Linked DNA regions of Homo sapiens: region 1 is linked to region 2. The links come from fine-mapping of genetic effects on gene expression. A gene starts in region 2. The other region holds a variant in brackets. All regions are shown on one strand. Distances are between the middles of the regions.

Region 1 (5,388 bases), 270 kb before region 2:
ACTGTACTCATCTTTTTATTGCAAATACCTGGCTAAAGGAAATGTCAAACCTTATATATAGAATTTACTTGAATAGGTCCTACGTCAAAGTGCTGCTTTCTTAGAAGCTCAAAACTGTTAATATGTATTGACTTAGCAAAAAGAACTCTAATGGCAAAGGCATTGCTTTTGAGAGAGATAGCCCATGTTTGGAACAGGAGAAAAAAAATACATATTTTTCTCTAAGAAAGTGAGGAGAGATTCAATATAGAATGGATAAGCTTAGCAGATATATAGCTTATAGGATAAATGAATATAAATTAAATAGAGTACATTGCTAAAGAGGACCTGGGGTCATAAATATAATGTAGACAAAAAAAAAAATTCCAACACAGAAGAAAGATTCATGGATATAAATTCAACTGAGCAAGAACAAAGTAAATTGTTCAGAGTTCAGCTGTCATTACTTGCAAGATCATAGACAATAAGCAGCAGAGTATCCAGGTGGTATTGTTTAGCTTTATTAGTGGATACATGTAAGTCCTGGAAGAAGGTTTGTAAAATGAGGAGAGTCCTGAAGATTAAAAAGGAATCCTCATTAGGAGAGAAGTTGATATTGGTCATCTAACATTAGGGCAGAAAATTTTCAGACCACTTTCTTCTATAAGTGTTACAACCATGCAGTTGACATTTTAGGAACTAAATCAGTCTTAATTTGCATAAAGGCTTTTTCATTGTTGTTCTTTTGTTATACAATCAAAATGCTTTAGCATAACACACCTTCTTCCTGTTTGTTTTGCTCTTCAAGAGAAAAGTAAGCATCCCTTACTTTTCCTTCCCTTCATCTGAAGTGCAAATTTAAGGTAAACAGGAATCTTCAAAGCACAAAAAGCATTTTCACTCTGAAAGACTTCTTATCTTGGAAGAAATGAGATTCCAGGATAATAAAAAGCTATCATGATATCTATTCTCTCCCTTACTTGACAGGGATTTTCAAGATGGATCGGCAAGATAGAAAGGGAATTTATTCATTCTACCAATACTTATGAAGAAAAGGGCATTTGGGATGAAAATGGATATTGGGACCTCCTCAAAGTTGCTATAGAAACCCGGGTGATTACAGCTAATGGTGTGGGGAGAAGTCCTGTTATCTTTAAGAGATTAACAGGAAACCTTGGTCTCATTATTTTTTCACTCCCCACATTGCTCTGATGATAGCAATGTACAGATTAGAACCAACAAACAACAATAATAACAAAACAACACCTTCAATATCTCCTTGTTTATAAAGTAAAAATATAATTTTGAAAATTGAGCTTCAAAAGCTTCCATCAACAAATCCCACTCCAACCTTCTGAAATAACACCTTATTCTTCATAACTATATTCTTTGATTTAGCATATGCCATATTGACAATATATCCCTATTTATTTCCACCTTCAGGTTTCTGTTCATACTCTCCTCTCTAAAGAAAATGATTTTATATAACTCCACATAAATACATCTCATCCAAAAAAATGCTAATTACTTGTTCAATAATTATTTCATACTACAAGAGTTAAAGTAGCCTCTGTCTTCTAAATGCTCATTCCACATTATCTGGACAAGTTCTCAATGTCTACCTGTGATACGGTTATGTACATTTGTTGTCAATGTTTTTCCCCATGTTTACAAATATCATTATATGTAATGTTCTCATAGCGACCAGTTTTCAAAGAATTGCTAGCTGGGAGTCAATAGCAAAAGCATACCAATCTTTACAGCATATACAGGGTCAACCCAAGTGGATCTGTCACGATTTAGTTTTCTCTTAGCACCTTGAACTATGCACTGTATCACACAGCTGGCTATATCACACCAGTGTGAGATTATATACTATTTGTATTGGTCTCTTTTTGTTTTTTGTTTTTGGTTTAAGTACAAAATTGTATGATGCCAAAGGTGAACATCTTCAAAGTCAGAAATATTCAGAATTAAAAACTAGCTCAGATATTAAATAGCCCTACATATTTGGATAAACTACCAACCATCCTAGAGCCTTAATTTCTTTCTACAACAGAAATAAAACCATTTTTCTTACAATATTTTTGTGAGGATTAAATAAGATGATTCACATTAAGAATCTAGGACATGGAAAGTCCTCAAATGGATGCCAACATCTCATGAGCAATACTGTCAGAAGATTCCATAATTCACTTTGAAGATTTCTCCAAAGTGTATAGCAAGACTAAATCCAGGTGGCACACCATTAGTGCACTGACCATATGTGATTTAAGCAGGGATAAGAACATGGTTTCATGTTTTAAATATTATTTCTCAAATGAGAAGCTATTATTATGCAATGGATAGAATTCAGTTTCTTATTATCTATTTCTAGTTCACAGATATTACTTACTAGTTGTGTGACTTTGAGACAGGTCCTTTACTTCCTTGATTCTTCACTTCTTCACCTGCAAAAATGAGGACATTGGGCTAGATCCATTATTTTACATTAATTTTTAAAAGTATTGGTTTCTTCATTCTGTGAATAAAATTGTATGGAAGTACAAAAACTGAAAGCATTAAAAGCAGAGTTGTTCTGAATAATACAAGGAGAAAATCTAGGACCTCCAACTTTCGGTATTGATTTGTCCATGGTTAACAGCAGATTCATGAAAAATTGTAACA[C/G]TTAATCAGTTACTAAGGCTTACTCAGAAAGTACATACAAGAAATGCCAAACGCTAGGCCACTATAGTCACAGAATATTACCTAAAGAAAAATAGCCTTTGAAGCTCCAAGAATTGTGCTGAGTACATTGTCTAATTAGCTGAAAATTATAAAGTGAAATTATACAACTTTAATGATTGAATAAAGAAAAAAATGTGGCTCATAAAAGATAATATAGCAAACAAATTAGAGTGATCAGACATTAATGTTTTGCGTTTCAAAGATAATATTGGGTGCAAAATTCATATGGATGAGTTATGTCTTCACACTTTCAATATTGTTAAGCATGTGTCAAGATGGCCACAGTATTGTAGAATGGTCAGTATGCAAAAATTATGCAAGAAATCATGTAAGAAATGAAACATGTGGCTTTAGAGTTGATAGATGGTTTTAACATTGTAACATTATAGTTCTGGGCTATTTACAAAACCTCTCTAAACTGCTGCTTATCTGTAAAATGAAAATAGCAATTTGGTCTTCTTTTCATTTGTTTGTTATTATTAAAGGATATTTGATATAGAAAGCACCAGCTGATATTGAGTTCCTAAGTAATATTAATTCTTTTTTCCCCTCTCCTTTTATGTAGTTCCATATGTATTGTTAATATTACTCAGCATAGAGTGTTAAGCAATCTTAGCAACTCAACTTTTTAATGGTATCTTTCACAGTGGTTTCTAGCTTTCTAACCTTTTGAAGCTGTTAAAATAAAGTCAAATAATGATACTGCTGTGGCTTAAGTGTATGCTAGGATCAATAAATTGTGGTTCTTGGAATAAATTGCAATTAAAGGGATAGCACTTGATTGCTTGACAGTAGGTAGTCTTTTTGGCCCAAAGAAACTTGAGTATCAATCTGATTCATAAGCTAATTAGTATGGACTTCACTTTCATTTCACTGGAAGATCATCAGATCGTATTGACTCCTGTCCACATCATGAGTGCGCCCTTGATACTGGCCTGTGTCACTTATAGGTAACAAATCCTCTTCACTTGTTTACTTTGCTTATTCAAGATTATAGTAAGCATTTTTAATCAAATAGAATATAGAAGAAATTTAACATGTTTGTAAATAAGCACTCTAATAGCTCTAAAAACTTCAATACTATTGCCTGCCTTTTTACATTTCTATACATTTAGGATAAAACATGTCTTAATTCAGATATGATAAATGTATCAACATTGTAAAGAACGATGACTGTTACTGAATCTTTGTAGCAATAGAAAAATTTATATAACAACTAATTATACACTAGAAAACACAACAGGATCGATATTTCATGGTAAATTATTTGAATTAATCTAAAAATAAAGAGTCAAAGTATTGTCCTCAAATGTATAAATACACTTACTTAGAGTATATTATTTTATTGTTCTTAATTTTCCGCACCTTCTATTCCATGTGGTGTTTTATATGTAATAAATTCCAGCATATACCTGTATAACTATTGAATGAATATAAGCCATTCAGAGACTAAAGCAAAGTAAGTTAAGCAATCCCTTGGACTGTAAATTCCATTAAGATAAATAATGTGCTTGTGTGTTTTCTTCCTCTATATTATCTACTTACCAGCATATGTCCATCCAGAGATTAAATAAATGTTTTGAATGAACAAACTAAAAAGGTTGGATTTCTGAAAATGACTGTTTAAATATAAAGTATCTTCTCCATTTAAATAGCCTGACCTCCATACCTCTTGTTTGTTACACACTTTTTATTTTTTATACTTTAAGTTCTAGGGTACATGTGCACAACGTGCAGTTTTGATACCTAGGTACACATGTGCCATGTTGGTTTGTTGCACACATCAATTCCTCATTTACATTAGGTATTTCTCCTAATGCTATCCCTCCCCCAGCCCCCGACCCCCTGACAGGCCCTGTTGTGTGATGTTCCTCACCCTGTGTCCAGGTGATCTCCTTATTCACTTCCCACCTATGAGTGAGAACGTGCGATGTTTGGTTTTCTGTTCCTGTGTTAGTTTGCTGAGAATGATGGTTTCCAGCTTCATCCATGTCCCTGCAAAGGACATGAACTCATCCTTTTTTATGGCTGCATTATATTCCATGGTGTATATGTGCCAAATTTTCTTAATCCAGTCTGTCATTGATGGACATTCTGGTTGGTTCCAAGTCTTTGCTGTTGTGAATAGTGCTGCAATATACATATATGTGCATGTGTCTTTATAGTAGCATGATTTATAATCCTTTGGGTATATACCCAGTAACGGGATTGCTGGGTCAAATGGTATTTCTTGTTCTAGGTCCTTGAGGAATCGCCACAATGTCTTCCACATGATTGAACTAATTTACAGTCCCACCAACAGTGAAAAAGTGTTTCTATTTCTCCACAACATCTCCAGCATCTGTTGTTTCCTGACTTTTTAGTGATTGCCATTCTAACTGGAGTAAGATGTTATCTCACTGTGGTTTTCATTTGCATTTCTCTGATGGCCAGTGATGATGAGCATTATTTTCATGTGTCTGTTGGCTGCATAAATGTCTTCTTTTGAGAAGTGTCTGTTCATATCCTTTGCCCACTTTTTGATGGGGTTGTTTGTTTTTTTCTTGTAAATTTGTTTGAGCTCTTCGTTTTCTTGTAAATTTGTTTGAGCTCTTCGTAGATTCTGGATATTAGCTCTTTGTCAGATGGGTGGATTGCAAAATTTTTCTCCCATTCTGTAGGTTGCCTGTTCATTCTGATGGT
Region 2 (5,388 bases):
ATCTGTCATGTCTTCTCTACTGTGTAAAATATGTCCTATACTAATATATGTAATAACATGTTTGAACCACTGTTAAATTTGCCCTACTTAGGTACAATCTTCCCCTTTATTTTTCAATAATTAAGTTTTTTTTTTTCCAAATATCAGATAGCCTCTCGGACATGTGAGGTCAGAAATGAGTAGAGGTTATGTGCTATAATCCAAATCTGATCAGCCAAGGGCTTCATTTTAAATCACTTAAATTCATTTTTAAACCAATAATAGAAATGTTAGCTAAGAGCAGTAATATGTCTAAGAAAACTCATTTGGATAAGAAATTAAATAATAATCAAGAAACAATGACACATCTTTCTCAAATGATTCCATATATGATAACTTCATGTCAACCAATTCATTAACTGTTCTATTGTCCTGTCTCATTACCCTAAAAACTTATGGCCCAAGATATTTAGAGCTTTCAACACTGAGTAATCAAAACAACTCTAAAACATCTCTACTTTTTTGTAATAATTGTAACTTAGCTTACTCTTATAATTTCTAAAACCAATCCCCCATGAATACAGATGCTTTTATATACTCACTTAAGTAAATAAGGAGGTAAAAATATACTCATTCTACCATTATCAACAATTAAATACAAGGAAGCCCTTAGGTATAATTAATAATAAGCTGCTTTATTGAAAGAAATTCTCTGAGATAAGTACTTTTACTTTTCAATCTGGTTTTTAACTTATAAGGGGTTTTTATTAAAAAGTATGTATTATACTGAGAAAGAAATTAACAGTTAAAGATAAAAGGGATAAACTTTTTCTAATCACTATTAGACTCTAGTCAGTATAAGTACTACCATGTCAAAAAACTTAGGATTTGTTAAAAATCAGGTCTGTTTTGTCTAAGTTGCAACTCCTACTGTATCTACTGTATATGTAACAATGCAAGAAGAATTAGATTCAGAATCCATTTGGCAGTGATAAAGAAAAAAATGCTGAAATGTTATTGATTCTCTCCCTCTTGTGCAAAACAAACTGAGTCAACTATATTTTTCCTGACATAACACAAAGGTTTTATTTAGATATTACAAAATATTGGCAAATGTTAGACTACATGTTTTTTATATATATGTATAATGAACTTATTAACCCTTTTGTAGAAAGAAGAGTGTCCTACTTCTGTAAAAAGAAATGCTACAGCTACTGACATGGTGATGTTAGCCCCAAGAGGAATACTGCCTGCAAAAGTTTTTGATGCAGAGATATTCAGCCTTAGGAGACACCTTAAACCTGTCACTGGCTGCTGAGCCCTGTCAGAGTTTATAACCCGCTGTGTCAAAGTCACAGTCTCAGCCCTGCCCTCTCCAAAGTATTTTTCACATTCTCTCTCCAAATTAAGTTCATTCTAATTCTCCAACTATTCTAGTTCCAGGATTTTCCTCCAATTATTATCTCCTTACAGGCATGAAGAAATCGCAACAGAATTTTCATCTGGTCTTTCAAACCATCCTTATTAACTTTCCCTTTTCCGCCCCCCCCCCCTTTTTTTTTCTAGAGCTTTTCAGAACTAAAGATAAAACAACCAACCAACTGAAGTCAGAGTAGGGTGGGAGTTAGCATGGATTAGGGCTGAGGTTGAAGGTGGCAGGAGAAGTGAGCCAGTAGGGTTAGATTTTTCAAGCTTTTTCTAGATAACCACCCTTAAATCTTAGAACCAACCAATGTTTAACAAAGCAGGCTTCCAATAGCCCTTGAACAATAAACGTTTAAAAATCAGTTTTCCAGTAAGGCTGCCCATACTGATCCCATATCGAAGTCTTCTAAGGGCTCTTCCAAAAAAAAAAAAAAAAGAAAAAAATGCTTAGCGAACCACTTCTCAAATAGGAGCTACTGAAGTTATATAAGTCAAGTTATTCCCAGGTAAAATGAATAAACTGTCCACAGCATTGGACATTGGGCATTGAAAAGCATCAGCATATGCTTCACTTTAGAGAAAAGAAAGACAGAAGCACAGTTTACTTACTAAAGCAGCCGCTCCAGTCCTCCTTGGAAACCCTGAGGAGTCTTCTCTTTTCTTTCCTACCAGTCAAATAAAGAATTGTCTTTCTATTCCACACAGGCCCAGAATAAACTGCAAAAAGGGATGGCACATGCACAGCAGCCCGTCAGGGTTTGGCTTTGGTGGGGTGCTTCGATTTCTGATTGTTTCAAAAGTGGGATCTTCTTTTCCGGAGGGAGGGGGCAAAGGAAGAAAAAGAAAGCGCGCTCGGAAAGCCGGCTTGGGTCCTGCTAATTATTCTGAAGGCAAAGTACCTGCACTCTCCCCGCCGAGGCTGGCTGGCGGCGCCGCGCCGGAGGGGAGGAGGCTCGGGAGGAGGAGGAGAAAGAGCAGCGGGAGGACTCGGGCTGGGAGGGGAGCGCAGGGTTGGGGAGGCCGATGAGCGGCTCCCGGCTCCTCGGAGAAGCAGCCGAGACGGCAAGGAGGAGGCGAGGCTCTGTCGGGGCGAGGCGCTGCCCCCACGCGCTCCGGCCGCCGGCTGCGGGCGCGGCTGGGCGGGGAGCCGAGGCGGCCGCTCCCGCACTCGCTCGCTCGCTCGCTGGCGCTCCCTCCTCGTCTCGCTCGCACTCACAGGCACACACCCCACGTCTCCAGCAGCTGCCGCTCGGCCTCACGCACTCACCTGCATTTCCTTAACGAGCCACTTGATGGCTGCCAGCGGCGTGGGCCCCGCTCCGGCGGGCGGGGGCCGGGGCGGGGAGAACGCGGCGCGGGATGCTCCGAGCGCCCGCTGGGGAGAGAAGCGGCGGCGGCGGCGGCGCTGCGGGCGCGCCAGATGGGGCGGGAGGAGGGGAGACCCGGCACCCACCGGCCCAGAGCTGCCTGACGCGGCCTGGGCGGACCCCGCCGCCCGGGTGCCTAGGCACGATTCCAGGGATCCAGGGTAAAGCGGTTCGCGCGGGAACAGGAGGATATGTCAGGCACAGGCTATTCCCCATCACTATAGCCACAGAGGACTGGTCCAGATGCGGATCCCGATCTGTGCTTCTTCAGGTGTTCGCGTGCTTTCGGTTATTATTATTATTATTATTTTCCGAGGGAGGCTGTCGGTAACACCTAAGGGGTAGTGGGTGTTAATAGCTGGGGGACGTACATTTGATTTGCAATGGAATCGATGCTTATGAAGAGCAGACTTAGGGAGGTGAAGGGCAGGGGCACAGGGGTTGCTTGGCGGAGGGGGTGTACTTCGGCTGAGCTGGATGGAGTTTTCAGTCGGGGCGCTTGGCAGTCTGGCTGGGCTTGAGGGAGGGATAGAGCTCTGCCAAGGTGGTAGCTGAGAAGGGAAAACCTGTACAAGAGTTGCTGAGAATATGCCTCGCTGCAGAGGAGAGGACATGGATGCAGGGAGCGGATTCTTCCCCACCTCCTCCTTACCCCAAGGTAGAGTGGGGTATCGGAGTGCATCAGATGTGGTGTACCACAGACTCGGGAGACAGGGGAGGAGGAACTTAGACCCCCAGCGAAACTAGAAATAAGGTTTGGAGCTGGGGGGAGAAGAAGGGGCAGGATGAGAGAAAAACAGCAGGAAGCTTTTTGTCATTTTACTATCTTTCATGTCTCATCAGAGCATACAGCTATAGGCAACAAATGCTCTGTCTCTTGATAAACAGAGAGCAATGTCACCATGTCGGTGCGTTTTCTAAAAAGCCAAAATAATTATCCTGTTTGTAATATGCAACACAGAGCATTCCAGGTACCATCTGGTCAAAGGTTCTGTAAGCACTGTAGAAGAAAACAAATAAAAAAAGAACAACGAAAAACCAGTTATCCATCTACTTTCCTTATATGTCAATGATCTAATCGCAGAAATGTCACTTTCTCCCGAAGAGAAATAAAGCTTAGTCACTATAGGTGGAATTTTCCCCAGGGTCCCTTCACCTTTTTCTTTTCATACCTTCTCCACTGCTTGCTGTGTCCCTTTGCTCTTTAAAAGGGACCCTTCTCCTGAACCCACGCGCTGCCGGGTTCCCTGCTCAGCCTCCCTAAAGCCACGGAGCCTACCCATCCAAGAAGGTTCCCATGCACAAACAGTCATCATCACTTAAAAAGGTTCTTGGAAATGACAAGATATGAACGAAAAAAAATTACACCATATGTGCAAGTGTGTGTGCATGTGTACATATTTTTGTAATTATACAAAGCACTTGCCCCTCTTACGGTGCTGTCTCCCCAAGATGATGATGACTGACTCATATTCTCTCTCTCTCCCTCCCTCCTTCTCCCTTTCTGCACAAATACACACCACTCACTCCTGTCTCAGTTCCTTCCTGTCAGTGTTCAATAATGGTTTTACATGAACTTTCTGTTAGGCAGCCTCTGACTACCAAGGGCGAGTTGGAGTGGATTGGTAGGAGGGAGGCTGGTCTCAATGATGCCGCTCTGTTTCCTGCCATCCCTCAGTCATTACATACACTACTGTACTTAATGCCAAGTAGAAGCAGAAATGATTTCCTCTCTTGCTAGTCACAATAATATATTTGTCCTCCCTCAGAAACACAAGTAATTAATAATAAAAGAAATAATGCATCTTGAAACCATGGGAAGAGCAGATGGAGGCTGATGTGGTTGTGTTAGTCACCTTTTCTGTTGTTGTTGTTGCAAAGACAACGTGACCACCTCTCCCTTTCTACTGCTTCTGGTGGGTTAAGCAAAGCATTTGGCCCTTTTACTGTATTCTCTTTTCCATCTTTCCCTTGACAATAGTTTGTGTGTTTTAAGTAAAGATTTCATTCTGCCAACCCGCAGGAAGCTTTTAACAAGATGCAGCTGAGCGTGTCGATATCTTATATCTTTTTACTGCTGCATGGGGGTGTTCAGCAACTTGAAACTCTTCTCTACTTCAGCTCCAGGCTGGGATCTCACAGAGACAGTGCTCCCTGGGGCTGATTTACTCTTGCTCCTGTACAACTATCCTTTGGTGTCCTCTGGAAAACAAAGAATATTTTAAACAATGGAAGAATCAGTGTTATACTCAATCCCCTTCCTCCTACCTCCTCCCCACATAATAATATCACAAATGTTCAATGGATTAGCTTATTGTAGAGATTTTATTATTAATTACATCTGAGAATTGGATTGAGATATCTTACTTGAAGGTGATTGCACCAAGCTTAAGGAGTTAAGAAAATTTTATTATCTAACTACCTAGCTACACTTCCTGTAACATTATAATTTATTTCTCCTTCTTCAATAAAAAGGCAGATGCAAATGTCCGCTTTAAGTTATTGCCATATATTTACTCTTAAAAATCAGTAACCTATCTGAATTGGTTGTTGTCAGTGGACCACGTGTTTAAAACAACCATAACAAATGTAAGATAAAAATAACCAAAAAGGGACA

Evidence for each region.
Region 1: its variant is fine-mapped to the expression of PTPRD in pancreas (GTEx, PIP above 0.99).

What each region holds. Positions count from the first base shown.
Region 1 is chr9:10,338,589-10,343,976 of GRCh38, forward strand. It overlaps PTPRD (protein tyrosine phosphatase receptor type D), which reads right to left. Exons shown (of 46, transcript NM_002839.4): 3 at 2,375-2,429. Among named protein-coding and RNA genes, the nearest start is that of PTPRD, 270 kb to the right of the region's middle. The variant C/G (reference allele first, on the strand shown) is at 2,647.
Region 2 is chr9:10,610,385-10,615,772 of GRCh38, forward strand. PTPRD (protein tyrosine phosphatase receptor type D) reads right to left here and starts at 2,618. Exons shown (of 46, transcript NM_002839.4): 1 at 2,304-2,618; 2 at 2,014-2,121. It overlaps PTPRD-DT (PTPRD divergent transcript), which reads left to right and starts at 2,822. Exons shown (of 3, transcript NR_110696.1): 1 at 2,822-3,042. RefSeq lists a silencer at 2,563-2,772.